3 separate regions of the Homo sapiens genome follow, and regions 2 and 3 are each linked to region 1. The links come from fine-mapping of genetic effects on gene expression. A gene starts in region 1. Each other region holds a variant in brackets. All regions are shown on one strand. Distances are from middle to middle. Region 1 holds the start of DSP (desmoplakin). Region 2 overlaps RIOK1 (RIO kinase 1). Region 3 has its middle 69 kb from the start of RIOK1.

The links. PIP is the estimated chance that this variant, and not a neighbour inherited with it, causes the effect.
Region 2: its variant is the best candidate, but not a certain one, in a credible set for the expression of DSP in esophagus muscle (GTEx, PIP 0.50).
Region 3: its variant is the best candidate, but not a certain one, in a credible set for the expression of DSP in whole blood (TOPMed, PIP 0.77).

What each region holds. Positions count from the first base shown.
Region 1 is chr6:7,536,350-7,546,606 of GRCh38, reverse strand. DSP (desmoplakin) reads right to left here and starts at 4,936. Exons shown (of 24, transcript NM_004415.4): 1 at 4,522-4,936. The coding sequence starts at 4,691. It overlaps DSP-AS1 (DSP antisense RNA 1), which reads left to right and starts at 3,524. Exons shown (of 2, transcript NR_183331.1): 1 at 3,524-3,561; 2 at 5,554-6,156. RefSeq lists an enhancer at 6,948-9,726.
Region 2 is chr6:7,407,619-7,417,875 of GRCh38, reverse strand. RIOK1 (RIO kinase 1) reads right to left here. Exons shown (of 17, transcript NM_031480.3): 13 at 7,425-7,490; 14 at 6,425-6,544; 15 at 4,934-4,987; 16 at 3,486-3,638; 17 at 1-545. The coding sequence ends at 435. Among named protein-coding and RNA genes, the nearest start is that of RIOK1, 23 kb to the right of the region's middle. RefSeq lists an enhancer at 4,213-4,983. The variant A/C (reference allele first, on the strand shown) is at 6,278.
Region 3 is chr6:7,453,657-7,463,913 of GRCh38, reverse strand. No RefSeq gene overlaps it. Among named protein-coding and RNA genes, the nearest start is that of RIOK1, 69 kb to the right of the region's middle. RefSeq lists enhancers at 1-5, 7,337-7,956. The variant G/A (reference allele first, on the strand shown) is at 4,868.

The DNA of each region.
Region 1 (10,257 bases):
ATTGTGGTATACTGGATTCAAATCTAGCTTAACAACTTAACTAGCTGTGTGACCTTAGGCAAGCCATTTAAATATTTTAACCTCAGCTTCCCATCTGTAAACTGGGAAGTTTGTTATGAGGCTTGAGATAACAAACATCCTATACAAGGCACATCACAGGTATTTGCTGGGTAATGGTAACTATTATTAACCACAGACCTGATATTTTTATAAAATATACAAGTTAAATTTAATAACCATGTAAATGTTACCTGCCGTATATTAAGCTAAACTAAATCTTGCTTTGCAATAATTTCCCAGAAAAGTGTTTAGACTATCTACGCTATGAGTCACTCGAGCTCTGGGCCTGTTTTCTCAGACTCTCCCTTGTCTCTCGCATCCAATTCTTAGCTGAAGCTGTCACTCCACCTTGGCAATACCTACTTTTCCATCCACTGCCCTCACCCTGGTTCAGACTTTCATTCCCTCCCTCCTTCACTGGTGCAATGGCTTCCTTAAGCCAACGCCTAAACAGTCCAGAAGCTCAGTTATGATCGTCTCACTTCCCTGCTCCTCCAATGGAGGAGACTTTCAATGGCTTCAGTGAAAACCTGCACCAGCTTCCCTCTGCCTATCCAAATCCCTCTCCGGGGCATTCAAGGTCTCCAATGCCTTGGTCAAAAAAGGATGCTTCTTCCTTTCATCTTACTGCCTCCCTGCTCAGAGAGAATGCTCTAAAAGGAGATCACTCCACAGGCTTCGCAGACTTTTCTCATGCTCTTCTCTCCCTCTGGAAGGCTCTCTGCCCACCCATCCTGACACAGCTGAAATACTCCAAAGTCTAGTTCGACACCACTTCCTTTATAAAGTCTTCCCAGTGCCCCCACGACAGATGTTCTCTCACCTCCTTGTGAAGTCTCTGAAGTCACGTACACCCCTCCTGTGCATTCCGCTTTTGCGTGCTAGTCTTCGTGTACTTATCTTCCTTGGAAGGGCCTACACTCCTTTCAAGGCTATAGATTTCCACCTTGATCTCCCCTGACACTTAACACAGAATGCAGTCAATGCTCGGTAAATACTTGCTGAATTAAGGAATTAATGGAATTTGAGATACTTGCATGGTGTAATTACAGGCCTGTCCATTCTAAAAGTCAGGCTGTGAAGGCACAGGGAAAACCAAGGTGAGGATCCTTGGGTCCTCAGGCCAACCCAGCCCTAAGTGGATTCTAGGATCTTCGGCACGTCCTCAGCTTCCTGTCTCTGAAGTGTGCGTGTGGGGTTTCTGCCTAGGCTAAGTGATCCTTAGGGGTCCCCCCGCTCTAAAATTCAGGCAAATTGACCTGTTTGTCTCATAGTAAGAAATAAGCTTCTCTTAAAACCTAATTTAAGACTAACTTTAAAATGTATATGAAATAATGATCACACGTATCTCAGTTTTGAAATCATGAGATCTGAAGAAAAATAAGCATTAATATTATAACCACATATTTCTGAAACTTAATGACTATTTTCTGCTTTTAATCCTCCCACAAATTCACCCTTTGATGGGTGAAAGAAAGATCTAACTGTGAGACTTTGTTACTTTGGTAACAAATTTCACTATTTATAATTTGTTTTAATGACAGGAATAAGACTAGAGTAATTCTGCTGTAATTGAAAACAGTATTAATATAATGTCCTATCCAAGAAGAATCCAAAATTTACATTTCAAAACATGTACATGTCTATTATTTCATTATCAAGGTTGTAACATTTACCAAATGTTAACAAAATTAAGTAGTTGCAGATTCCATTCAATCTAAAACAAAGACACAAAGAACAGGCAGGTGGTCGGGGGAAAAAGAGGGAATTAGGATACAATGAGATCTAATACTGTCCTAAAAACGGGTAAGTGCTGTTCGTGGAAAGGACAGAGAGAGAGAGAGATGTTTTAAAGTCATTTTCAAAGGAAAACTAAGAGTTGGGCCCTCCACACATTCAAATTTCTTTATTCAGGGAAGGGCTAGATACAAAACACTCATCTCAAAAATCACCAATCTATTAATAATTCAGCCATAAAGTAGCAGTTTTTGAAATAAATGAGTTTAAAGTCAACCAATAGTTTTTATACTAGTTTTCATGCTAAAAAAAAAAAAAGAAAGAAAGAAAAGAAAACCACAAAAACCTTTATTTAGAAAACCTTCGGGTCAGAAAAATACTTATGAAATTCTTAATCATCATTCACTTAGCAGAGAGCAGTGGCTCCCTTGGGCACAGAGGGCACCCTGCTTCTACAAAGTGCACGCCACAGCCAAACATATCCCTCCACACAAAACCAGAATGCCACCAGAAAAACTGCGACATGCCCTGCCTTCAGGCGGTCGCTATTATTTGAAAACGCAGAAGTCAGCATTTGTGGGCTATTTTGTAGTCAGTAGCACCACTGCAGGCTGGGTCAGGCTCGAGAGGAACCTCCATTGCCAGGATCCCCGGAAAGAATGACCGCCTCCCGACTCAAGCCCTGAGCTTGACGCCCTGCTGCCGGGCAGAGCAACATTAATGAGAAGAAAAAACATCCTTCCTCAAAGTCAGGTAATTTTTCACTTGGGTCTCTTTCCCCTTCCCAGAGAGATGTGAGACTTGACAAGTTTGTAAGTAGGCTTTAAGTTGGAAAAACAGAGCACGGGATGATACTACACAAGGAAAAAACATGGAGCCTGCCCAAAATTAAATGTTTCAATGGGGAATCCTAATAAAACATGTACCTTGATGCAGTTCATTAACCACTTAATTTATTAAAGTTTTACTCCCCTACAAAAGGTATAAGAAGCCAAGGGAGTGAAATATTCGATTAATAGTACTGATTATTGTCTATTTAAAAGATAAGAAATCCAAGCTAGCAAAAGCATAGTTATAAATAATAATCAAAATAAATACTTGGTTCATGAAAACGCCAAAAAGAGCTACTAAAGAGTCCTTCGCATTCTATTCTGACTTGGATTTAAACTGTGTGTAACCCACACATTTAAAGGATGTGCATCTCAAATCCTGGAGGACTGCGGGAGAAAATTTAAATTTCAGATTTAAATGGCTGGCAAAATTTTAAAACAAATGTAATGAAAACCCAAGTTTTCATTCCTTCTATTGCTTGGCACATTTTCCCTGGAAATCCCCAGACACATTTTGTTCAGGAAACAAAGAACTCCAAGATTGAGACAATTCTTTGCTAACTCAAAAAAAAAAAAAAAAAAAAAAGCGAAAATAGATTTTCAGGATGCCCCATAAATAAATAAATGAATCTAAGCAGAAAACAGGTTGCAACTCGAGTAGTCCCTGCCTTCAAAACTGCTTGCAAAACAAAACTCCCTGGAGCGCATTCAGGTTGCTCCTCCCAGGCCTAGGGCCACAACGCCTGGTAAATAACGTCCCGGCGCTCAGGGCCTCTTTCCCAAAAGCCCGACGTGGGAACAACTAGCAGGGGGCGGGGAGGTGGGGCGGGCTGCAAAACGCGCACGGCTCACGTGGGCATCTAGAGTCCAGCTCCCGAGACCCGGTCAAAGCAGGGACAGGATCTCTTCCCCACCCACCCAAATGACGCCCTCGGTCTGTTTCCGCTGGGATCCGGAGAAGCTGACCCTCTCACCGGGGGGTCTTCCCGGGGCGCCTAGGCCAGGGCGGGCCCCCAGCGTCGTCCTCTCCCACCCCCCCACTCCCCTGCCCACACATTCTGGATCAAAGCAGACATGCGGCCGGCGCTCTGCGATCCAAGGCACACTGGGGTCTTTCATCCGGTGTTTTTAAAAAGGAGGAAACAAAAGGCTCAGAGGCAGGGCCCCAGGTGCGCTCGCCCGCGGGGGCTGCGGCGCGGACGACCGAAGGTAACAGGCACGTCCCGGCCGAACTTCGAGACCCGGGCCCGGCAGCCGCCCCGGCGGGGAAGTTTCGTTTCCCGGACAGGGGAAGCCGAAGCGCCTCCTCGGGACAGGACCCCGCGCCGCCGGGACGCGCAGCCTTGATACAAACGTCCTTGGGTGGCCGAGGAGTCCAGGAGTCGTTGCAGTCGTGGTCTCGGGGTTACTGGGGATTGGGGGTGAGCCGGTAGAGACTGCGGAGCCCCGAGCACCACTCGGCCACCAGACAGGACCGGGGCCCCGCTCCTTTCCTCTTTTACTTTGATTACGGTTGGAGAGGTTGGGTTTTGTGGTCGCAGCCCCACCTCGCCTGACCTCCCATTCGCGGGCTGGGACAAAGGCGGCTGCAGCCGTGTCCAGCAGGCAGGGGACAGCCCCGCGCGGGCCCGACGCCCCCTCTGACCACCCGCCCGGGCTCGCGGGAGGGGAGAAAGGTACGACCGAGTCCCTGTTCGCAGGACAGGGGCCAACCTGTCCCCGCACGCGTCAGGACACCCGGTCCTGCTCCCAGCGCGGCCGGGAAGTTCTTTCGGGACCTGGGGCAAAAAAACCTTTCCACCTTCGGGACCCGAGTCTCCCAGTCGTCCAGAGGAGGACGGTCCCTCCCTGTCCCGCGAGCCCCGCAGCCCGCGCTCTCCGGGCAGGTACCCACCAGTAGCCGTCCGAGTTCTGGTCGGTGATCACGCCGCGCCGAGAATAGTACATCCTGCTGGTGCCCCCGCCGCCGCTGGTCACCTCGTAGCGCAGGTCCGGGCCAGACTCGGCGCGGATCATGCGGCCCAGAGTGTTGATCCGCGGGTGGGAGCCTCCGTTGCAGCTCATGTCGGCGGGCAATCGGGAGAGCGGCTCAGCGCCGAGGCATAAGCGAGGCGGGCCGGCGCGGAGAAAGCGGAGGGGGCCAAGGATAGGCGGACGGCCGGGGAACCGGGCGGGAGTGCGGAAGGCTCGCGAGGTCGCTGCTCGCTACCTGGGCCCTCCCGAGGCCGCTGCGAGCGCGGAGACGGCGACGGGCCGGGGGCAGGAGCGGGAGGAAAGCTGTGGCTCGGAGGGCGGCAAGGGCGCAGAGGAGCTGCGTCGGAGCTGGGTGTTGGTGTTGGTCGGCGGCGGAGCGAGTCTCCTCCCCGCTGGCACTGGGCGCCTAGGCCACACCTGGCCGGTTTCTTCCCAGGGTGGGGTGCGGCCGCCGCGCCTTCCCCGCCCCCCCGCGGGTGTCACCGACGCGCTCCGGCCGCCCCTCCCCACCTGCGCCCGCCGCCCGCGACTCCGCCCTGCGCCACCGAGGCCTGAGTAACACCGGGCGGGGCGGGGGCGGGGTCCCCGAGACCCAAGCGCCCTGGGCGAAGCCACCGCGGGGAGGACCTGCGCTCGCGGGGGCTGCTGCGCTCTGCGCTGGGGCCTCTCGGGCTGGGAATGCGTGGCCCGGCTTTTGAGGATTTCCTCGGTCCCCGGGCGGAAATAGCTGGAATGGAGGGGCCTCTCGATTGGAGACTTACTGGTCAAATATTTACTTTTGTTGATCACTGGAAACGCTACCTACCACGCATTGACTAGGACCACAGTGAGGAGGGAACGCTTTAGATGATAGAGTTTTGTTTGGGGGCTTTTTTTTGTTTTGTTTTATTCCAGGAATTCAGGAAATTGCCCCAGAAGTCCGATTTCTGATGTGTAAAACCTTTTTTTACAGAAAACCACGACTTCCTGGAAAAGTCTTCACCGTAAATATTAATCTCTTTGGCATGAAGAGGAAAACACTGCAGCTAATTTTTCATGGGATAACAAAAATATAAACTGCAATTTCTTTTATTTTTTCCCTTTCGATGGTCTTTTTAAACGAGGAGTAAAGATTTCAACGCCAGGTCCATTTTCCAAATTTTGTACCAGAACCTTGAGGATGCTTGTCTCTCGCGCGCTTCTCCGCAGACCGAACCCTCTCCGGAACTCAGAGCTGTTCACCCAAGTCAGCGGAGGAGGCCTCCTGGGACTTGAGCCTGAGGGTGGCGAAGAACCCTAGGCAGAGATCATCAACTTGGTACCGATGAGTGACGCGGAGCTTGAACATTCCAGCGACTTGCTCCAGGGCCACTCCCAGTTAAGAGGCTGAGTGTTAACTGCAAGAGGCTGAGTGTTAACTACGCCGTTGGCTCCAGGAACCGAACCGGGTTTGGATACAGACCCAGTCACACCATCCATGAAAAGCTGTTTCTATAATATGAAAAATTGTTAAATGACGCTTTAGTAAAAGCCATTTAAAGATCTTTTCTAATAAATTTTTCATCTTTCCAAACAATGCCGCTAATTACCTTCTGATACAGTGCGTTTCCAAAATGTTTATGAACTGAAAACAAAAATAAAAAACTACATTTTTATGTTGTAAAGGGAGTGGGGGGGACTTTCTAAAATTTGTCGTATTATAGCACTTCTCATGACAACTTGACCCTTTAGGCATAATTTTTGACAAAATGTCTTGTTCTTTTTCTTTTTACAGCTGAACGTCTTAAATTCAAGGAGTAAACACATATAATGAGATAAAAGTTTATCACTGTTAGCACAACCAATAATTTGCATCGTAGTCTCAATTTCCTCGAATCTTTAATAAAACCAAAGTGGTCAAGTGTTTAAATGATTATACAGATTGAGTACCCCTTATCCAAAATGCTTGGGACCAGAAATATTTTGGATTCTGGATTTTCTTGGATTTTGCAATAGTTGCATAGACGTAACGAGAGATCTTTGGGGATGGAACTCAAGCCTAAACATGAAATTTATTTATGTTTTCTATATGCCTTATACACATGGCCTGAAGGTAATTTTATACAATATTTTAGATAATTTTGTGCATGAAACAAAGTTTTGACTGCACTTTGACTGCAAGTCATCACATGAGGTCAGGTGTGGAATTCGCCACTTGTGGTCATCATGTCAGTGCTCAGAAAGTTTGGATTTGGGAGCATTTTGGATTTCAGATTTTCAGATTAGGGATGCTCAACCTGTACAAACACTGATCTATAGACAAGACGGTGGTTTTTCTCAAACAGAATCAATGGCTGGAAGTCAGCCTCTGCACAAACAGCCCATAATATCCATTGGTGGAGGAGAGAAAGACATGCATGGAGGGAAAATGTCAGTGCATAATGTACAACATTTCATTTAGGATGTTTTCCCTCTATGCATCTCATTTGTTCAGCAAATAATTATAACCTAGGATATGGAAATACTCTGCAACATACAAAGATAAATAGGGTCCAGTCACTGCCCTTAAATATATTATAGTAAAACTTTGATTTAAGAAATTCAGGGGCCCGTGCGGTGGCTCATGCCTGTAATCCCAGCACTTTGGGAGGCAGAGGCGGGTGGATCACTTGAGGTCAGGAGTTCGAGACCAGCCTGGCCAACATGATGAAACCCCATCTCTACTAAAAATACAAAAATTAGCTGGGTGTGGTGGCAGGCGCCTGTAATCCTAGCTGTTTGGGAGGCAAAGGCACGAGTATCACTTGAATCCAGGAGGTGGAGATTATATTGAGCAGAGATCGTGTCATTGCACTGCAGCCCAGGTAACAGAGCAAGACTCTGTCTCAAAAAAAAAAAAAAAAAAAAAATTCAGGGATTATTCTTCCCTAATGTGTAATAAAGAGGCTACACAATTGCACGGTAGAATTATCCTTTTAAAAAAAACCCACATATCTATTAACCACCCCCCCAGTGGTAACAAAAGCTCTTGTTAGCCAAGGGTCCCCTTACGGTCATAGGAACCAGGCTCCACACAGACCCAAACACCACCCAGACTCACAAAACTGTTCAATCTGCAGGCAAAACAGAGGAGGAGGCGAAGAGCCCACGCCACCAATCACACCTCTGGCTGCGTTGCTTCCTCACCCATCTTACTGCTTCCTGGGCTTTTCCAGGCATCCCCAAGAACACGAACGGCTTCCAGCTACCAAACATGCCTGCTCTAGGAAGACAGTGGCTTTCATTTATCTTTCTCTAAGGGTGATAAAGAAAGATAAGAGGATAAAATAAACAGATTGACATGCCCGACAGATGGAACACCCCCCACCTCAACACACACCCACACACATGCACATACACACACACACACATCAGTTGTCCAGGTTGGCTCATCACACAGTGAAGAGCGAGGATAACTTGCCCATAGTTATAATCTTAGTGCTACAATTTACTTATGCAAGAGCTCAATTTCTTCATGTGTATAATGGAAATAACACTTGCTCTGCCAACCTTCCAAATCCACAGTGAGGGTCAAATGAGATAAAATACGTGAACATTCTTGAACACTGTGAAACATATAAAGCTTAAGGTACCACCTGTTAAGCCAAAAGTTCTTTGCTGGATGCGAAATTTTAACCGTTAATGTTCCTGTCTTTATCCCACATGTAAATCAGTAAACCTCCCTCTTGGACACATTTAAGATGCATTCATTTAGAAAGCAGTTATTGAACATCTACCATGTTACACAACAGATTCAATGCTAGACACATGAAGATGAATAAAGCATGACTCTTTTTCTGCAGGATATCAAAGTCTGCAGTAGTAAAACAAATAATTACAATACAACATTAAGTATGCTATAATGAAGGTATATTTATAGAATTTTGAAAGCGCAGCAAAGAGGTTTAAAAGTAGCTTGTTTTCTTACAACTTGGTTTAAAAAATCAGAATCCAAAGTCTGGCAGAGTCTTCACTGGCTGACCTAAGGTCAGCTATTTTTTCCCTGCCACTCATAGATAGCTCCCCTTGTACTGATAAAACAGATCACTGACAGGCAACTTTCTCTCTGGCTGACCTTAGAAATCACCTTGCAGTTAGGAAAGACGAATCAGTCATATTCAGAGCAGATTTTTAAAAGAAAACGACACTTTGATTTCAGTGAGATTAAGAAGAATCATTTACTTGCTCAAAATCCCATGGGAACTCTCTATATCTTTGTGTTGGTAAATGATACCTCTTCATCACAAGAAGATTTATAGCCCATGAGTTAAAATAACTGTTCTGCCTAACAGAGGAGTAGTTCTGGGGTTTTTGTTTTGTTTTGTTTTGTTTGAGACAGAGTCTCACACTTGTCGCCCAGCCTGGAGTGCAGTGGCATGATCTTGGCTCACTACAACCTCTGCCTTCTGAGCTCAAGTCATCCTCCTGCCTCAGCCTCCCCAGTAGCTGAGACTATAGGCGCACACCACCACACTGGACTAATTTTTGTATTTTTTGTAGATACAGGATTTCACCTTGTTGCCCAAGCTGATCTGGAACTCCTGGGCTCGAGCAATCCACCCACCTTGGCCTCCCAAAGTGCTGGGATTACCGGCATGAACCACAGTGCCCGGCCAAGGAGTAGTATTTTAATAAGTCAAAATTACAGGCAGAAGCTAGGATTGGAACCATAATGTGAAGGAAAAGAAAATGCCTGTTAAAATGTCAGACAATTAAAATCTTAATAATAAAATGGATATGTATATTTTACTCTTTCTTTTCTCTTCCATTTGTCTGAATAAATTAGAATCCTCCAGAAATAATGAATCTAGGATCTGAATTATCACAAAAATAAGATTGGTCTCTCCTAATTAAAATTGTCAAAATGAAGAAAGCTGTTTGACAAAGCTCGTTTCAAAAATAGGAAAATGTTTGTAAAATATATACATTAACCCCAAACTATCTTTGGTTTACTTGGTTTAAGTGTCATTCAGGAACAGGGGAGTTTGTCTGTTTGCAGTGATTTTTCATTTTTGCTGGGGGAGGGTACTTAACTTTGTGGAAATTAAATAGCTCAAAGGAACTTCTCATTTTTTGTCACTGAAGTGATGAGTTTTTATTGTTATTGTTGTTGCCATTTGGTTTGTGTTTGGCACAGGTAAATTGTGCTATCCATTGTGCTTTAAGAATATGTTTTTTGGGCCGGGCACGGTGGCTCATGCCTGTAAGCTCAGCACTTTGGGAAGCCGAAGCAGGAGGATAACTTGAGCCCAGGAGTTTGAGACCAGCCTGGGCAATATAGTTAGACCCCCTTCCTACAAAAATACAAAATACAAAACTTAGCCTGGCATGGCCGTATACACCAGCTACTGGGGAGACTAGAGTGGGAAGATCGCTTGAGCCTAGGAGGTCGAGGCTGCGGTGAGCCAAGATTGAGCGATTGCACTCCAGCCTGGGTGACAGAGTGAAACCCTGTCTCCAAAAAGAAAAAAAATAGAGTAAGTTTTTGACTGCTTTTCATTGGATAGCATGGATATTGGGGATTCATCCATACTTTCCTGCCTGATCCTGTTTTCATGTAGCACCCAGATTTGCAAGATGCGAGGCTGGAGGTTAAAGTTCCCGGTGAGGGCAAGTACCGCTATGGACCACAGAGGAGCCACTCACACCCATGGCCAAG
Region 2 (10,257 bases), 130 kb after region 1:
ACATGGCCTTATAATCAGATGACCTCAGATGGGTCTCTGGTGTGTACAAAGAAAGCAAAACCAATTTTCCCATGAGTGCCTCTGGACACTCATGTAAGAGTTACAGATGTTGACTACATTTAAACATTTATCATGCTTCCAAAAACATATTTGTAAGAGAAAAAAATATAAAAATAAAAATGTACAAAGTTCTTTATTAAAATAATAGCTTAAATAAATCCTCTGTCAACACCAGACAGAGTCAGTGACTGGATCTAGACTCTAGAGCTTAGAGCTTTTTACATAGTTACATGAAAACATTTGAATCCGTCTTCACAGACAGTGCCACGATGACAATCTGGTTAAAACCAATAAGCCATCTTCCAGATGCAGCTTAAGAGTTCAGGCGAGAAAAGGAACTGAGGAAAATGACTGTACATAATATGGTTCTCATTCTATTTGCCTTTTTTCGTCTTGGCTGTCTTCTCCTTTCTTTTTTTCACATGTTTAGGAATTTTGTTTTTTCTTTTCTCTCTCTGGGCTTCCTTGACCATCTTTTTTCTTTCCTGTAAAAAACAAACAAAAAAGCCAACTTTCATTCATTTGGAGTATGCATTTTTTGTTTTTGTTTTTTGTTTTTTGTTTTTTAGACAGGGTCTTGCTCTGTCGCCCAGGCTGGAGTCAGTGGCGTGACCATGGTTCACTTCAGCCTCCACCTCCTGGGCTCAAGCAATCCTCCCACCTCAGCCTCCTGGGTAGCTGGGACAACAGGTGTGCACCACCACACCTGGCTAGGTTTTTTTGGGGTATTTTTTGGTAGAGATGGGGCTTCGCCAGATTGCACAGGCTGGTCTCGACCTCCTGGGCTCAAGTGATCCACCCACCTTGATCTCCCAAAATGCTGAGATTACAGGCATGAGCCACTGCACCCACCTGGAGTATTATTATGATTATAACTAAATAAAATACACACATAGAAGAATAAAAGTGAGTGTAATGTAAAGAAAAGAAAAGAAAATGATTATGGGTTGGTGGAGGAACTTGGGGTGAAAACTGTCTTTCAGTTTTTTCTTTTTAGAGACAGGGACTCACTCTGTCACCCAGGCAGGAGGGCAGTGGCATGACCATTGTGCACTGCAGCCTCAAGCTCCTGGGCTCAAGCAATCCTCTTGCCTCAACCTCCCCAGTAGCTGAGACTACAGGCATGAGCCACCATAACCGGCCTTGAGCTTCCTCTTTTTTTTTTTTTTTTTGAGACGGAGTCTCTGTCGCCCAGGCTGGCATGCAGTGGCGTGATCTCGGCTCACTGCAAGCTCCGCCTCCTGGGTTCACGCCATTCTCCTGCCTCAGCCTCCCAAGGAGCTGGGACTACAGGCGCCTGCCACCACGCCCGGCTAATTTTTTGTATTTTTAGTAGAGATAGGGTTTCACCATGTTAGCCAGGATGGTCTCGATCTCCTGACCTCGTGATCCACCTGCCTTGGCCTCCCAAAGTGATGGGATTACAGGCGTGAGCCACCGCGCCCAGCTGAGCTTCCTTAATAGAAATGTGAAGACAGCCAAACAGAAATATCCCTAAGAATGTTATTAAATGTTTGCAAATACTTTTCTTTACAAGTTCCATATTCTAACAGAAATAGACATTGGAAAGAGACAAAATATGTGTTTCTAGTAGACATATGAGAAAATATGCTAGCAGCTGAGTATGTCCCTCAGAAGTCTTGGGACCCACATTGTATAAGGTTTAAAGGATTAGACTAAGATGGAATAATAATAGTCACATAGCACTCAGTCAGCAGTGTCTCTATGTCTATGGCTAGGGATTAAAGAAATACAAGAGTCCCTTCTTATCCATGGGGGATATGTTCCAAGACTCCCAGTGGATGCTTAAGACTGTGGATAGTGCCAAACCCTATATATACTATGCTTCTACCTATACATACGTACCTATGATGAGGTTTAATTTATAAATTAGGCACAGTAAGAGATAATAACTAATAACAGAATGGTAACAATATACTATAGTAAAAGTTATTTGAATGTGGTCTCTCTCTCCAAATATCCCACAGTATCATACTCATGTGACAGTAGCTTCTTCATTGGCAGATGCAGCCTCTCTGGTAATTTTTCTATTTTTTAGTCCAAACCTATTCCTGAATCTGTGTAACTATTCCTTACAGTAAATGGCCTGGTGGCACTCATTTCAGGGGAACCCTTGCTGAAACCTTTGAAACCTTCGTATAGGCTCAGTGCTTTCTGGTGCAACATGGTGCCATCAACTGGAAGATGTTTTTGTTTACGTCTTTCACCCACAAATTTCATGCCTTTTCCATCTTAACTAAGCAGTTATCACATGCTATGGTCCTAAGTTTTGCAGTTTGGGGTGAGACAGCAAAACCAGCACAAACATCTTTTTCCTTCTCCACAATGTCACGGATAAAAGATTCTCACCAGCAACTTCAGCATATGATTCTTTTCCTTTTATTTATTTTTTTGAGACAGAATCTCACTCTGTCACCCAGGCTGGCGTGCAGTGGCATGATCAGCTCACTAGAACCTCAAACTTCTGGACTCAAGGGATCCTCTTGCCTTAGCCTCCCAAGTATTTGGGACTACAGGTGCTCATCACCAATGTTTTAATAGAGACGGGGTATCACTCTATTGCCCAGACTGGTCTGGAGTGATCCGCCCTCCTTGGCCTCCCAAAGTGCTAGGATTACAGGCATGAGTTCCTTGTTAAGTCAAGAATGGTCACCTTTCCACTTAAAGGAAGCATTTTATGGCTTCTCTAAAGCATACCTGAAATTCCAACATCACTACTCCTGTAATTTACGGTCATTATTAAGCAAAGTAAGGGTTACTTGCACACAAGCACCACAACATCACAGCAGCTGAACTGATAGCCAAGAAGGCTACTAAGTGACTAACGGGTGGGGAGTGTCGACAGTGTGAAGACGCTGGACCACGTGATGATTCACATTCCAGGCAGGATGGAGGAGGACAGCATGAATTTCATCACACTACTTAGGACGGTGAGCAATTTAAAACTTATAAATTGTTTACTTCTGGAATTTTCCATTTAATATTTGCAAACCAAGGCTGACTGCAGGGAACTGAAACAGTAGAAACTGAAAGCATGGATGGGGGGACTATTATATGGTCTTTCAGATTCCAGAAACATCAAGCTGGGCTATAAATCCCCCTGAAATGGCTCTTCAGTATTTACCCTGGGTCAACTCTAACATCACTTGTACTTCATGTGAAATGTACTGAATTTAGTGCGTGCTCTCTCTAGGCAATGCCCAAGGTGCTCTGATGAGCAGCCCAATCTCAAGATAATGTTACCACCAAAAGTCAAGTTCACACTTAGGTATTAAAACTGTAATTAGAGGTACTTATCAATAATGTTTTCAGCCATCATAATCTAGCTAGATCCTTGAGCAAAGAGAAATAAGAGCGGCTGTGCTCCCACACTAAAGAAAAGGGGAAGGTATTTCATTGCTTACTTTTTTATCAATGTCAGGGTCCGTGGTGTGTTTCTTGGGGCGGGCATGGTCTCCCTGCTCTTCAGAGTCTGTGTCAGAGCACTCAGAGCTTCCAATATCTTCTGAATCAGAACAAGTCCTTTCCTCCACTTGATTTTCTAGGAGTGCAGGGACCTTGAAATTATTAAAGAACCATGTTATTCTAAACAACACACAAACCAAGTTATGTGTTGTTGTTAAATGTGTTAATGCCAGAATTCAGATTTTAGGCTCGCAAATATATGTTAAAAACTAACATCCTGTACTGAAACATCAAAACACCAGAATGAACATCAGGAGGGAAACATGAAAGTAGCCACTCCAAGTAAGGCTCCAGAACATACTCAAATGAAGGAACCAGGGCTTTACTGCGTGACCTAGATCAACAACAGAGCTGTTCTCCTTCTTTCAGCTAATCAGGAGCATTTAGTTGGGATTGGGAAAGAGGCAAAATATACATAGAGGTAGAAAATGAAGATTTATATGGATAACTTCACAGCTGTTTTCCTGTGAACCACATTTCTAGCAATAAACTAATCCAATTGGGAGGGAAAACAATATGTGAAGAAGAGAAATTTTCATTACTTCCTGAAATTCAGCAGTTGTCTAATACAGCGCTTCCTAGCAGTTTTTAAGAGTGAGGTTTCCCTTTTATAAGAAAAAAACAGATCTTTAGAAGTCAATTGTACAACAAGATTTTCTAGCTTGCTGCAATAAAATCTTCATGCTCTGGAATCCAAAGCATAACTTCCTTATGACACCTGTTATTATAACTCAGAAATGCAAAATACCAGAATTCCCCTAATTCAATTCTTTCCACAGAAAAGACATGATTTTAAGAAAGCAAACTGTGATCCTTTATTTAAGTCTTCAATTAGGAAGATTTAAAAAAATAAAGACTGCTTTTATGACTGCCTAAGTTAGAATTACTTAATCCCTGCCCTTCTAAAATGTAAAACAAAACAAGATTGTTTTAAGAAAAAAGAACATCACAGGAATCCAGCACAGCAGGACTTGCTGAACTCATGAGATTGTTCTTTAACAAGTAATACCCTGGTAGGAGACTACATTCCAAAGTTCTCCTAAGCTGGTTGTAAAACCATCAAGAAGCACAATGGCTATCATTAAGAGCTCCACAAATGACGACCAGGATACAAAAAGATAAATACCTCACCTGCAATCACTGAACAATTCAGAGACAGAAAGAAAAATAAATTAATTTCCAAATTTCAGTGCTGTGTTTAGAAAGAACACAAAAATGGCATTTCTGAAGATGTCCACAGACTTTGAAAGCAATTATAACATTTTAACAATATAAAATAACATTTAGTTCTAATAATATTAAATAATAATAAAAAACAGTATGACTAGAGTTTATATCCTTTAAAACTGTTTTCACATAAACAAACAGTAACACATGTTCTTCATACCTTCTGAACTCCTGACAAATCTTTCTTCAATCCTGTAACAGTCTGGTATAGAATCTTATAACCAAAATGAAAAAAAAAAAATAAGGATCAACATAAAACTAGACAATGAAATATGCATATTGCACTATTAAGAACAATGTGGGTTAAATAATGTCTCCTATGATTATAAAAAGGTATCTAAAATTAATCTCACTGTAACACAGGAAGTTTATAATATTGATATTATTTCTGTCTACCAGATCTACTGGCCAAATCCAACCAGCCACCTGGTAGTTGTTTTTTTTTTTTTTTGAGACGGAGTCTTGCTTTGTGGCCTAGGCTGGAGTGCAGTGGCGCGATCTTGGCTCACTGCAACCTCCACCACCTGGGGTTCAGGAGATTCTCCTGCCTCAGCCTCCTGAGTAGCAGGGATTACAGCTGCCACGATGCCCAGCTAATTTTTATATTTTTAGTAGAGACGAGGTTTCACCATGTTGGCCAGGCTGGTCTCGAACTCCTGACTTCAGGTGATCCACCCACCTCGGCCTCCCAAAGTGCTGAGATTACAGGTGTGAGCCTCCGTACTGGGCCTTTTTTTTTTTTGAGACAGAGTTCCGCTCTGTAGCCTAGGCTAAAGTCCAATGGCGCAATCTCAGCTCACCGCAGCCTCCGCCTCCCGGGTTCAAGTGATTCTCGTGCCTCAGCCTCCCCAGTAGCTTGGATTACAGGAGCACGCCACCATGCCTGGCTAATTTTTGTATTTTTAGTAGAGACAGGGTTTCACCATGTTGGCCAGGTTGGTCTCGAACTCCTGACCTCAAGTGATCCGCCCACCTTAGCCTCCCAAAGGGCTGGGATTACAGGTGTGAGCCACTGCGCCCAGCCTACCTGGTAGTTTTTACAGATAAACATTTGCAATCAATTTGAAGATAGCAAACACAAACTTTGAGCCCCAATTAAGTGAAATATTATCTGCCCCACATCAAATAATTCCACTCTTCTTTAGTATACTTGTATTACACAAAAGTGTATTCAACTATTATTAAAGTATTTCTAATTTCACGAATAAAAATTGAGGGTGAATTTTTTTCTCTCTTGTTACATAAGGACCTACGTAATCACCTCAATTTTGTTTCTTGGCTTGCAAAGCCTAAAATATTTACTATCTGACCCTTCACCAAAAAGAAATTGTTCCTGAATGATGTATGTTAAAGAAATATATGTTAATGGACCTAATATAATAACCATTAATAGCCTAGACTTCTATCTGAATCTTGTTTCTACAATTACAGCTTGTTGGATTCATTCAAATGTGTTACCTCCTCTCATAAATTCCAAATAATTCCCTTTGCGTTCAATGTGCAC[A/C]CAAGTTAACACAGATAGAGTTAGTCATTTCACTAGCTCAGAAGCCAATATTCAAGATTAGGGGAACTTAAAAGGCCCAGATAGGTTTGGGACAGTCCCCTACTACTTTTGAAGAGCTGCTTGCTATATACAAACCAAGCTACTTACATTATCTTGTTGGGCATTCATGGCCATGTCCTCTTCCTTCAATTTCATAATTATGTCCATATCCCTCTCATAATTTTTCACTTCATTCAAGGTTCTAGGAATATATGCTCGCTTAAACACCTAACAGAGAGGAAAAGCAAAATCAAAACTGTTATTCATACACTTCTCACATTCACACAGCATACTCCTCCATCAGGTTACAGGGGAATCTATATATTCATTCATCCCTAACACTGATGCTTGGCTAAGCTGTCTGCACACACTGGTATCCCATCTGTGATGTGGTGTCCCAAAAGTAACACTACTAATGATAGAACACTAAATTTTGCATATGATTTATTTTAAGGAAGGGAAAAAAAACATTAGAGCTGATTCAAGATTATCCTTAGAATAACACTTCTCCTTCATTTTTGTTCCAAAAAGCTTTTCTGAGCAGGAGGGAAAGGGGCGGAATTACAGTTGGCAAGCGCTGCCTGGCTATGCCTTACGAAACATACCCAGCTGCTACAGTGAAAAAGGTGGAGAGCTGCCGACAAACACAGGGCACCTCATAGTCAACCATTAAGAGTTGTGAGAATTTTTTTTAAAAGCCTACTATGGCTCCTTCACAAAAAAACACCCTGACTCGTTTTTATCAAAGCATAATATTTAAAATCTATAACATTTCTAGAATCAATATTTAAGTCATTTAAAAACTCACATTTGCAAATTAAAAACAGGCTTTTCCTTCTTGACGCCTATATCCTAACAGGCTCTTTAAAAATTTTCTCCATCTAGGACAATGGGCTAACAGGTTGCTGAGTGGACCAATACAGTGAAATGTAAACTATCCAACTTGGCTCACTTAAATCATTTACTATAATATATCTTAAGGAAATATTACCATCATTTGAAAAAGCTGCTTATCTATTTAAATCAAGTTTATGCTCTAGCAACATAAAAAAAAAAACCCTCAAAACACAAGTGTTTCCAAAGGCTGTGAATAGATAATAAATCCTACCTCTTCATCCACATGATCTTGGCTAGACCGTTCTTCCTTGGTCCTTTGAGATGCTATTTCCATGGCCTTGGAAAGAAAACAAAAATGACTTTCTTTTATATTCAAACTGCAGAAGGCACATCCATGTCCCAGTTTTGGTATAAAATTGTTCCAGTCTTTTTAAGTATCACCTCCTCACACTTAGGAAAGCATTTAGTGAGGTCTAATGGTACAAGTTAGCTTTCCAGCACAGACCTCACCAAAAAGGCTGCCATCAACCCAAAAGTAACAATAAATCAAACTCTTCTAGCCTAGGGGGATCCCTAGCCCCCCTTTTTCAAAAGTTATGCTACTTTTACTAAATTTAAATAATTAGCTTTTGCATTTAGTAAATGCTTTAGCATTTACTAAAGGAATACAGAGACCTAAAGAATGAAAGAACCATTCCTTAAATCCTGAGCAGTCGGCGAAGGGAATTGCAAAGGCTGGCTGTAAATCTTGAATATACGGCTTTATTGCTGCTGCACTGAAGAAAGCTCTCTGAGCAAACAATGACTGAAACGAGGGTGACAAAGATTCCAAAGGGTTCTTTTGGTTTGTAAAACTGAGTGTTCTCTTCTCTATATAGAAGAAAGGAAAAAATAGTGGGAGCAGAGGTTTTTTTTTTTTTTTTTTTTGAGTTTAGACACGAAAATCAGTGCTGACCCAGGCACAGTGGCTCACGCCTCTAATCCCAGCACTTTGGGAGGTGAGGCCAGCAGATCACCTGAGATCAGGAGTTTGTGACCAGCCTGGGCAATATGGGGAAACTCCGTCTCTACTAAAAATACAAAAATTAGGCCAGGTGCAGTCTAATTACAGGCTCATGCCTGTAATCCCAGCACTTTGGGAGGCTGAGGCTCACGCCTGTAATCCCAGCACTTTGGGAGGCTGAGGCTCACGTCTGTAATCCCAGCACTTTGGGAGGCTGAGGCGGCTGGATCATGAGATCAGGAGTTCCAGACCAGCCTAGTCAACATGGTGAAAACCCGTCTCTACTAAAAACACAAAAATTAGCCAGGCATGCTAACATGCACCTGAAATCTCAGTTACTTGGAGGCTGAGGCAGGAGAATCACTTGAACCCGGGAGGCAGAGGTTGTGGTGAGCCGAGATCGTGCCACTGTACTCCAGCATGGGTGAGAGAGCCAGACTCCATCTCAAACACACACACACACACACACACACACACACACACACACACACACACACACACACACAATTAGTCGGGAGTGGTGGTGGGCTCCTGTAATCCCAGCTACTGGGTGCCTGTAATCCCAGCTACTGGGGAGGCTGAGGCAGAAGAACTGCTTTAACCTGGGAGGCGGAGATTGCAGTGAGCCGAAATTGCACACTGCACTCCAGCCTGGGTGACAAGAGCGAAACTCCGTCAAAAAAATAAATAAATAAAAGAGGCCGGGTGCGGTGGCTCACACCTATGATCCCAGCACTTTGGGAGGCCGAGGCGGATGGATCACCTGAGGTCAGGAGTTCAAGGCCAGCCTGACCAACATGGAGAAACCCCATCTCTACTAAAAATACAAAATTAGCTGGGCATGGGGGCGCATGCCTGTAATCCCAGCTACTCGGGAGGCTGAGGCAGGAGAATCGCTTGAACCCAGGAAGCAAAGGTTGCAGTGAGCCGAGATTGCCCCACTGCACTCCAGCCTGGGCAACAAGAGGGAAACTCCATTTAAAAAAAAAAAAAAGAAAAAGAAAAAGAAAGTCAGTGCTAAGTTAAAAAGTTGAGGAATAAAAATGACACACTTATTTATTCCATTAACAGATGTGATTGCCTACTATGGGCCAGATATTGGGTACTTGGCAATAGAGAAAACTCCTGTTCCATAAAAGTTCATAATTGAGGGTGACAGAATTAGGGACTTAGTATAATAAGTGACACAGTGTGACTACTTCTATTATAGTTGTAGGAGACTACACCTATGAAAACAATTTCTGCTGAAATACCCCTCCAGAGAGCTTTCTAACTGGAGCTTTAAAGTTCACCAGGCGGAGCAAAGTTGAGCAAAGGCAGAAATGGGAAGGTATTGCAAGGAAATGGAAAAAGAGGAAAGGACAGGATAAAACCTGAAGACCTGGCCAGGCAAGGCGACTTATGCCTGTAATCCCAGCACTTTGGGAGGCCGAGGCAGGCGGATCTCCTGAGGTCAGGAGTTCGAGACTTGCCATGGCCAACATGGTGAAACCTTATCTCTACAAAAATACAAAAATTAGCTGGGCATGATGGCAGGTGCCCATAATCCCAGCTATTCAGGAGGCTGAGGTGGGAGAATCACTTGAATCCAGGAGGTGGAGGTTACAGTGAGCTGAGATTGTGCCATTGCACTCCAGCCTGGGCAACAGAACGAGACTCCATCTCAAAAACAAACAAACCTGAAAACCTGTGTAGAGGCATACATGCCATGTGTTCAAAACTCTATGATTCAGAGACAAAAATAAAAATAGATAAACTGGATCACATCAAAATTTAAAACTTCTGTGCATCAAAGCTTGCAATCAACAGAGTGAAAAGACAAGTCACAGAATGGGAATAAACATTTGCAAATCACGTATCTGACATATCCAGAAAATACAAACAACTCAACAAAAAAAACCAAACCTGATTAAAAAAAAGACATGGGGCTGGACACTGTGGCTCATGCCTGCAACCCCAGAACTTTGAGAGGCCGAGACAGAAGGAGTGCTTAAGCCCAGGAGTCTAAGACCAGACTGGAAAACACAGTGAGACCCTGTCCCAACAAAATGAAAAAGAAAAAAAAAATTGGCTGGGTGTCATGGTCTGCACCTATAGTCTC
Region 3 (10,257 bases), 83 kb after region 1:
CCAAGCTCTTGCCTGTGGCACAGAGGCCTGTATCTGCAGGGTACATCTGGGTCACACTGTGCTGCCCTGTGGGAAACTGAGGGATGGGGAGTTGGCAATCAGACTGCTATTCGAGCAAATAATTGGTCTGTTTTCTGATCCAGAAACTTTGTTTCCAGACAGGATAAATCAATGAATATAGATATAAAAACCAAACAGATGTCTTCTCCTAGTCCATAGCTTGTCTTTTCCCATTGTTTGTGTTGTCTTTTTTAAAATATTGTGGTAAAATATATATACATAAAATTTACCATCTAAACTTTTTTTTTGAAACTCACTCTGTCACCCAGGCTGGACTGCAGTGGCACCATCTTGGCTCACTGCAACCTCTGCCTCCTACGTTCAAGCGATTCTCGTGCCTCAACCTCCTGAGTAGCTGGGACTACAGGCCCACACCAGCACACCTGGCTAATTTTTGTTTTTTTAGTAGAGGTGGAGTTTCACCATGTTGGCCAAGCTGGTCTTGAACTCCTGATTTTCCACCCGCCTCAGCCTCCCAAAGTGCTGGGGTTACAGGCGTGAGCCACCGCACCCGGCCTTAACTATTTTTAACTGCACAGTTCAGCGGCATTATGTACATTCACAATTTTGTGCAACCAACACTACCACCCATCTCCCGAATTTTTTCTTCTTCACAAGCGGAAACTGTCCCCATTAAACACTAACTCCCCTTTCTCTCCTCCCCAGTCCCCTGGCAACCATCATTCTACTTTCTGTCTCTATGAGTTTGACTACTGTAAGGACCTGATCTAAGTGGAATGACAATATTTGTCCTTTTGTGTCTGGCCTTTTTCACTAAGCATAATTTCCTCAAGGTTCATCCATGTCGTAGCCTGTGTCAGAATTTCCTTGCTTTTTAAAAAAGTTGTGGCAAAATATACATCACATAAAATTTATGTCTTAATCATTTTGAAATGTACATTTCAGGGGCATTAAGTACATTCGCATTGTGATGCTACCATCACCACTAGCTATCCACAGAACTCCTTTTCATGTTGCAAAACTGAAACTGTTAACATTAAATAATAACTCCCCATTCTCCCTTCCCCCCAGCTCATTTCTTTTTAAGGCTGAATAATTTTATTTTTATTTTATTTTTTTAGAAACAGAGTCTCTCTGTTGCCCAAGCTGGAGTGCAGTGGTGTGATCATAGCTTACTGCAGCCTTGATCTGCCCCGGTCCAAGCAGTCTTCCTGCCTCCGTCTCCCAAGTAGCTGGGAATACAGGTGTGCACCAACACACCTGGATAATTTTTTTTTTGAGATGGAATCCCACTCTATCACCTGGGCTGGAGTGCAGTGGCATGATCTCAGCTCACTACAACCTCTGCCTCCCAGGTTCAAATGATTCTCTTGTCTCAGCCTCCCGAGTAGCTGGGATTACAGGTACCTGCCACCACTCCTGGCTAGTTTTTGTATTTTTAGTAGAGACGGGATTTCACTGTGTTAGCCAGGCTGGTCTCAAACTTCTGACCTCAAGTGATCCACCTGCCTTGGCCTCCCAAAGTGCTGAGATTACAGGCGTGAGCCACTGCACCCGGCCTAATTAATTTATTTTTTTGTAGAGAGGGGCCTCCCTATATTGCCCAGGCTGGTCTCAAACTCCTGGGCTCAAGCGTTCCTCCGGCTCGTCCTCCCAAAGTGCTGGGATTACAGGTGTGGGCCACCGTGCCCAGCCCCAAAGCTGAATATTAAATCTATTGTACACGTATAGAACATTTTGTTTATCCATTTATCTATTAATAGACAGACATGTGGGCAGCTTCCACCCTTTGACTATTGGGAATAATGCTGCTATAAAAATTGGCATACAGTATCTGTTTGAGTTTCTGCTTTTTTTTTTCTTTCTTTCTTCTGAAATAGGGTCTCACTCTGTCGCCCAGGCTGGGGTGCAGTGGTGTGATCACAGCTTACTGCAACCTCTGCTTCCTGGGCTCAAGTGATCCTCCTCAGCCTTGTTTATGCTGTCTTTTAACAAAAATAAATAAATAAAATAAAATAATATTAACACATTTACTTTTTCTACCCTTCCTTGATGGTCTGTGCTTTTTACGTCCCGTAAAACATCATTTTTAAATGTACCACGCTTGCTCGGATGGCCTGCCTGGTTTCTGGTTCCCATTGCCCCATAGTCATAATGCTGAGACTATTTACCCCCACCTCAGGATCTAGACCAATGCTGGCTGAATCACAGCATTGCCCTCACAGCCATGAGCCCATTGGCAAACACAGAGCTCATTAGCCACAGAGTGGCTAGTCACACTCAAGCCTCCATTCCTGGGTCCACTAATCAGCCTCTCCTGACAGCATTCCTTGGGTCCAGCCCTAGTCAAGTAACTCCGATGTCAGGCCCGTTGCTCTTAGCTGAGCCTGTCTGTTCTCAGGGGTTCTTCTAATGAATGGAGTCTTGTACCTGAACTCAATCCCAGGATTGAGTGTGGTTGTTTCCTGTGCCTGGACCTCCACAAGCCCTCTTCAGATCATGATTGTCTGCATTCTACTCACCTGCCAGGACCTTCTCCAACTGCTTGTGCCAGAGATCTTTCCTAAGCCTACTTCCTGGGTCAGGGAGGTTTAGGTGACCAGGGTCCTGGGGTCACAGCCTCCTCCCCAGTGCTGTTTAGACTATAACTAGAGGTGCCGACATTCTTCATGCGCACAAAATCATCATAGTCATTCCACAATTTGTATACAATGTACTATGTGCCAAGCACTGCTTGGATGCAGGCAGGTAAGACCCACACCCTCACGGTGCTTACAGCATGGTTGATGCCAAAATAATTCACTGGGAGGTCATTAGGCTGAGAAGACTCCAGCACCTTGGGTTCCTACCTAGCAAACTGAAACCCAACTCCCTGTAAATGGTCATATTCTAGGCATCACAAACTGCCAACTAACCTCTAACAAGATTTTACACAGAAATGAATTTATTTGTTTTGCTTCCGTGTTCACCCTGTAAAAGCCTTCCCCTAGTACCTCTTTGAGGGAAGCCCCAAATTACCTGTGGTCTTTGAACTGCCAGATTCATGAATTACCGTTTGCCAAATAAACTTTTTTTTTTTTCTTTTTTTGAGACGGAGTCTCGCTCTGTCGCCAGGCAGAAGTGCAGTGGCACAATCTTGGCTCACTACAGCCTTTGCCTCCTGGGTTCAAGCAATTCTCCTGCCTCAGCCTCCCGAGTAGCTGGGATTATGGGCACCCGCCACCGCGCCCAGCTAATTTTTGTATTTTTAGTAGAGACGGGGTTTCACCATGTTGGCCAGGATGGTCTTGATCTCTTGACCTCATGATCCACTTGCCTCGGCCTCCCAAAGTGCTGGGATTATAGGCGTGAGCCACCACACCTGGCCCAAATAAACTTTTTAATATTTTAGTGTGCTTCAGTTTACCTTTTAACATTGAAGATCAGAGAATAAATAAGTAAACAAAAGAAATTGTTGCAATATAGGCTAAGGCTGTAATGGTTCTAAACAGGTGATAGGCTAGAGAATCACTTGGCCACGGAAATGCTGAGTCTAAGGTGTTTGGGGAATGCCTCTTTGAGGAGAAGATATGAGATCTGAGAGCTAAAGGTGGGGAAGGAGCTGGAGGAGGAGCATGCTAGGCAGAGGCTGACAGCAACTGCAAAGGCTTTCAAAGCCAGCAGGAGAGTCAACGTGCTGCTGCCTGGGCCGAACCACAGCTCCCAAGCCTATGCCAAGGAGCCCCAGTTCACCAGCAGTGCAGCCAGCTTTGCGATCCCCATGGCACTGCCTCCTTGTTTGAAGGCCCCTCATCTTCACCTGGCCCTCCCAAGATCTCATCTCCAAGGTGGGCCTCAGCCAAGCGGCCGTGACCATTGCTGTTTCCAAGAAACTAATTCGACAAGATTTTAGGAGCTAATAGATGATCAGCCTTAACGATGCAAATGTAAATAAGCAAAAGAATTGAAAGCAGGCCCAAGGCAGTGGCTCATGCCTTAACCCTAGCACTCTGGGAGGCCAAGGCAGGAGGATCGCTTGAAGCCAAGAGTTGGAAACCGGCCTCGGCAACATAGTGAGACCCCATCCCTACAAAATAAGAAAAATTAGCTGAGCATGGCAGTGTGCCCCTGTGGTCCTAGCTACTCAGGAGGCTGAGGTGGGAGGATCACTTGAGCCCATGATCACACGACTGCACTCCAGCCTGGGCGACAGAGCAAGACCCTGTCTCAAAAAAAAAAAAAAAAAAAAAATTAAAAGCAGAGTCTTGAAGAGATATTTGTCCACTGATGTTCACAGCAGCATTCCTCACAGTAGCCAAAAGATGAAAACAAGCCAAGTGTTACACATAGACAGTACCGTATTCAAAATGTAATACTGAGATGTTTCAGACTATAAAAGGAAGGAAATTTTTTTTTTTTTTTTGAGACGGAGTCTCGCTCTGTCACCCAGGCTGGAGTACAGTGGCACAATCTTGGCTCACTGCAACCTCCGACTCCCTGGTTCAAGCGATTCTCCTGCCTCACCTCCTGCATAGCTGGGATTACAGGCACACACCACCATGCCCAGCTAATTTTTGTATTTTTAGTAGAAAAGGGGTTTCACCATGTTGGCCAAGATGGTCTCGATCTCCTGACTTCATAATCTGCCCACCTCGGCCTCCCAAAGTGCTGGGATTACAGGCGTGAGCCACTGCCCCCAGCAGGAAATTCTTATAGTCTACAACATGGATGAATCTTGGAGAACATTATGCTCAGTGAAATAAATCAATCACAAAAGGACAAGTACTGTATGATTCTACTTATATGAGGTTCCTAGAGTAGATTCATAGAGACAGAAAGAATTGGTGTTGTCAGGGGCTAAGGGGAG[G/A]AGGAATGGGGAGCTATTGTTTAATGGGTACACATTTTTGGAAGATGAAAAAGTTCTGGCAATGGAGGGTTTTGATGGTTGTACGGCAGTGTGAATGTACTCAATGCCACTGTCTTCTGAGAACCGCAAAAACTCTCGGCCTGAAAAACTTCATCTAAATCTGTCTCTTGAGAGCTTTGACCAAACTCTGACATGGCTTCTAGCAGCCTACAGCCTGAGCTCTGGGAAAATCCAGCCCCCCTTGAGTTCGTCTGGAAAAACTCAAGGTTGACAACTGATCTGACTGTTCCAGGCACCTGATGATAGACCCCTGACCTCCCTTTCTTAGAAAGACTGATTTTTTTTTTGAGACAGGGTTTCACTTTCGTTGCCGAGGTTGGAGTGCAATGGCGTCATCTCAGCTCACTGCAACCTCTGCCTCCCAGATTCAAGCAATTCTCCTGCCTCAGCCTCCCAAGTAGCTGGGATTACAGACGCCTGCCACCACACCCAGCCAATTTTGTATTTTTAGTAGAGATGTGGCTTCACCATGTTGGTCAGGCTGGTTTCAAACTCCTGACCTCAGGTTATCCACCTGCCTTGGCCTCCCAAGGTGCTGGGATTACAGGCATGAGCCACCATGCAGAGCCCTACAGTGCCCTTTCAGCATTGCCATCTGTAGATGGATGGCATAGGTGTTAACCAGTTCAGTGGATCCTCTGCTTTTTTGCAAAGGCAGAGAGCCAGTGTGACAGCTTTCCGTATCCCAAGCTCTTGTCCAGTGTACCATAAGAATCAGGTCACACATGGACTTGAAGAATGAATGCAACCGTCTCATTGAGTGGTGGAGGTGGCTCAGCTGGATGGATTGAGAGGTGGAAGGACAGGACGGAAAGATGATCTTCCTGTGGAATTTTGCCGCCCAACAGCCAATCTCTTCTCTGACCATCCCCAGCCTAACTCCTCTCAGCATTTACATGCACTTTCTCTTTGCTCTGCCGTGCCATGCTGCCATTTGCTTATCTCCTTACCTGCTTCAGGAGCCTGGCATTTAGGATTTATATAGGTACAGGATAGGGGGTGTGGCAAGCCAAAAAACACCTTTTAGACATAACAGGAATGCCTGTCCTCATTTAGAAACAGCCACCCAGGATTGAGGCTGGGGCCTTACTAAGCATGGAACCTCCCTCTTCTAACCAGCACTTGGCTCCCATTTTTATCACTACTACTCAAGTAGGCTTATCAGACCTTTAAAATTGGGTCTGGAATTAGCAGGTTCTTGGTCTCACTGCCTTGAAGAACAAGACCACAGACCCTCACGGTGACTCTTACAGTTCTTAAAAGTGGTATATCTGGAATTTATTCCTTCTGATGGATGGATGTGCTCAGCTTCCTCCTTCTGGCAAAACACGCAGGAACAAAGCTAAAGACCTTATCCGTGTTACAGCTGTTAATATAGTGTAGCCAGAGTCGTTCGTTCTTCCTGGTGGTTTCGTAGTCTCGCTGGCTTCAAAAGTGAAGCTACAGACTTTCACAGTGAGCGTTATAGCTCACAAAGGTAATAGAAACATATACACCAACCTGCAGCAAGACATCACAAAACACACCCCTTCCATTATCGGCAAAGTAACTCAAAAGGGTCGCAACTACTGGTTTGGGCGCCTGCTTTTCTTCTCTTATCTGGCCCCACCCACATCCTGCTGATTGGTCCATTTTACAGAGAGCCGATTGGTCCATTTTGACAGGGTGCTGATTGGTGCGTTTACAATCCCTGAGCTAGACACAAAAGTTCTCCATGTCCCCACTAGATTAGCTAGTACAGAATGTCAATTGGTGTATTTCCAAACCTTGAGCTGGATACAGTGCCGATTGGTGCATTCACAATCCCTTAGCTAGACACAAAGATTCTCCAAGTCCCCACCAGATCAGCTAGACACAGAGCGCTGATTGGTGCATTGCCAAACCTTGAACTAGATACAGAGTGCCAATTGGTGCATTCACAATCCCTTAGCTAGACATAAAGGTTCTCCAAGTCACCACCAGATCAGCTAGACACAGAGTGCTGATTGGTGCATTTACAAACCTTGAGCTAGATACAGAGTGCCGATTGGTGTATTCACAATCCCTTAGCTAGACATAAAGATTCTTCAGGCCCCCACCAGATTAGCTAGGTACAGAGTGCCGATTGGTGCATCCACAAACCCTGAGCTAGACAGGGTGCTGATTGGTGTATTTACAATTCCCTAGCTAGACGTAAAGATTCTCCAAGTCCCCACCAGACTCAGGAGCCCAGCTGCCTTCACCTGGCGCATCCCGCACCCGGGCCGCAGGGGGAGTTGCCTGCCAGTCCCGCGCCGTGTGCCCGCACTTCTCAGCCTTTGGGCGGTCAATGGGACTGGGCACTGTGGAACAGGGAGCGACGCTCATAGGGCAGGCTCCAGCGGCGCAGGAGTCCACGGCGGGGTGGGGGGAGGCTCAGGCATGGCGGGCTGCAGGTTCCGAGCCCTGCCCCGCGGGGAGGCAGCTAAGGCCCAGCGAGAAATTGAGCACAGCAGCTGCTGGCCCAGGTGCTAAGCCCCTCACTGCCCCGGGCCGGCGGGGCCAGCCGGCCGCTCTGAGTGAGGGGCCCGCCGAGCTCACGCCCACCCAGAACTCGCGCTGGCCCGCAAGCGCCGCGCAGCCCCGGTTCCCGCCCGCGCCTCTCCCTCCACACTTCCCCGCAAGTTGAGGGAGCTGGCTCTGGCCTTGGCCAGCCCAGAAAGGGGCTCCCACAGTGCAGCGGTGGGCCGAAGGGCTCCTCAAGCACGGCCAGAATGGGCGCCAAGGCCGAGGCCCCGAGAGCGAGCGAGGGCTGTGAGGACTGCCAGCACACTGTCACCTCTCAAAATTAAGAGTGGTTGGATGCAGTGGCTCATACTTATAATCCCAGCACTTTGGGAAGTCAAGGAGGACGGACTCCTTGAGGTCAGGAATTGGAGACCAGCCTGGGGAACATAGCAAAACCTTGTCTCTACAAAAAACACAAAAATTAGCCAGGTGTGGTTGTGCACGCCTGTAGTGCCAGCTACTCGGGAGGCTGAGGTGGGGGGATTACTTGAGCCTGGGAGGTCAAGGGAGGCTACAGTGAGCCTGTCATCCAGCCTGGGTGACAGAGCGAGACCCTGCCACCAAAAAAAAAAAAAAGAAAATAATTTTTTAAAAAAATGTTTTTTGAGACAGAATTTTGCTCTTGTCGCCCAGGCTGGAGTGCAATGGCGCGATCCTGGCTCACTGCAACCTCCACTTCCCGGTTCAAGCGATTCTCCTGCCTCAGCCTGCTGCGCAGCTGGGATTACAGGCACCCGCCACCACGCCCAGCTAATTTTTGTATTTTTAGTAGAGACGGGGTTTTGCCATGTTGGCCAGGCTAGCCTCCAACTTCTGACCTCAGGTGATCCGCCTGCCTTGGCCTCCCAAGGTGCTGGGATTACAGGCATGAGCCACCACGCCCAGCCCGAAAGAAGAGATTTGGGGTACTGCTATACTCCAGGCACATTTGCACCCAACCGTGGGCGATGCCAGAGGCACAAGGGCTTTGAGTGATTGAGATTCATCCCAGCTGTAATTTCTACAGATACTGTGTTGTTCTATTGCTGTATAACAATTACCCCAAAACCAAACAGCTTGAAACAACAATAAACACTTTTTAGCTCACACGATTCCTGTGGATCAGGAAGTTGGGAATGGCTTGTCTAAGCAGTTCTGGCTCAGGGTCATTCATGAGGTTGCAGTCAAGAATCAACCAGGGCTGCTGTCATCTGAAAGCCTGGCTAGGGCTGGAGGACCTACTTCCGAGATGGCTCAGTGGTATGGCTACAGGCAGGAGGCCTCAGTTCCTCACATGTGAATCTCCTCATAAGGCTGCTTGAGTGTCCTCACAACGTGGCAGCTGACTTACCCCAGAACAAGTGGTTTGAGAGAGCGAGGAAGCTCCAATGCCTTTGTGACCTGGTCTGGGAAGCCACACATCCTCACTTCTGCATACTCTACTCATTGGCAGTCAGTCACCAAGTCCAAGCCAAACACAAGGGGAATTAAGCTCCACCTATTAAAGAAAAGAGTATCAAACAATATGCAGACCCCACAGGGACCAGTTTCTTTCTCATGCTGAGAGAGAAGAGGGAGGGAAAACGGGAGGAGGAGGTGCTAACGCTGACAGTGCTGAAGGTGGGGGGACAAACAGAGCCATCAGTGAGGCTGGTATCCAAACCACCAACCCTGGAATTATGCCTTAGGCCAAGTCTGGTGAGATACTTAGATGCTTGATTTCAAGAGCAGGAGGGAATCAGAAAAAAATTAGTGGATGGTAGTCTTCTTTATAGAAAAAATTGGGAACATATCAGAAGGTCTTGTAGGATAAAGCTATTAAAGACTTAATGAAATGCTCCAAAGAACACACAGAGAGAACAAGCGTCTGGGGATCACAAACACACAATTATTAAATACTGGTTAATATTTGAAAATTAAAAGGCAAGGAATTTTTTTTTTTTTTGAGACAGAGTCTTGTTCTGTTGCCCAGGCTGGAGTGCAGTGGTGCAATCTCAGCTCATGGCTCACTGCAGCCTCCACCTCCTGGGTTCAAGCAATTCTCATGCCTTAGCCTCTTGAGTAGCTGGGATTACAGGTGTGTGCCACCACACCCAGCTGATTTTTTGTAGAGATGGGGTTTCACTATGTTGCCCAAGCTTGTTTTGAACTCCCGGGCTCAAGTGATCCACCCACAGCAGCCTCCCACAGTGCTGCATTTACAGGTGTGAGCTACTGCGTGCAACCAAAATTATTTGTAAGTAAGATTCCTAGAAACCACAGAAGAAAAAAATCAATCCAACCTCTGAAAAAAAATTTTTTTTTAAAGATCCTTGGAAAACTTATCTTCCAAATCCCTATCACAGACAAAGACATATAAGGGCTCCTGAAAATTAATAATAAACTGAACAAACTCAATAAAATAATGGGCAAAGTAGCTCATAGAAAAGGCTCTTCACATCAGAAAATCTGTCAACTTCTCTCATAACAATAAAATGCCAAGTTAATGGCCAGGTGAGGTGGCTCACGCCTGCAATCCCAGCACTTTGGGAGGCCGAGGTGGGCAGATGACTTGAGCCCAGGAGTTCTAGACCAGCCTGGCCAACATGGCGAAACCCCGTCTCTACAAAAAATACAAAAATTGGCTGGGTGTGGTGGTGTGCACCTGTAGTCCCAGCTACTTGGGAGGCTGAGGCAGAGAATCGCTAGAACCCAGGAGGTGGAGGTTGCAGTGAGCCAAGATCGCACCACTGTACTCCAGCCTGAGTGACAGAGTGAGACTCTGTCTCAAAAAAAAAGAAAAGAAAAGACAAAGTTAAAACCCCCCAACTGAGACACATTTATTC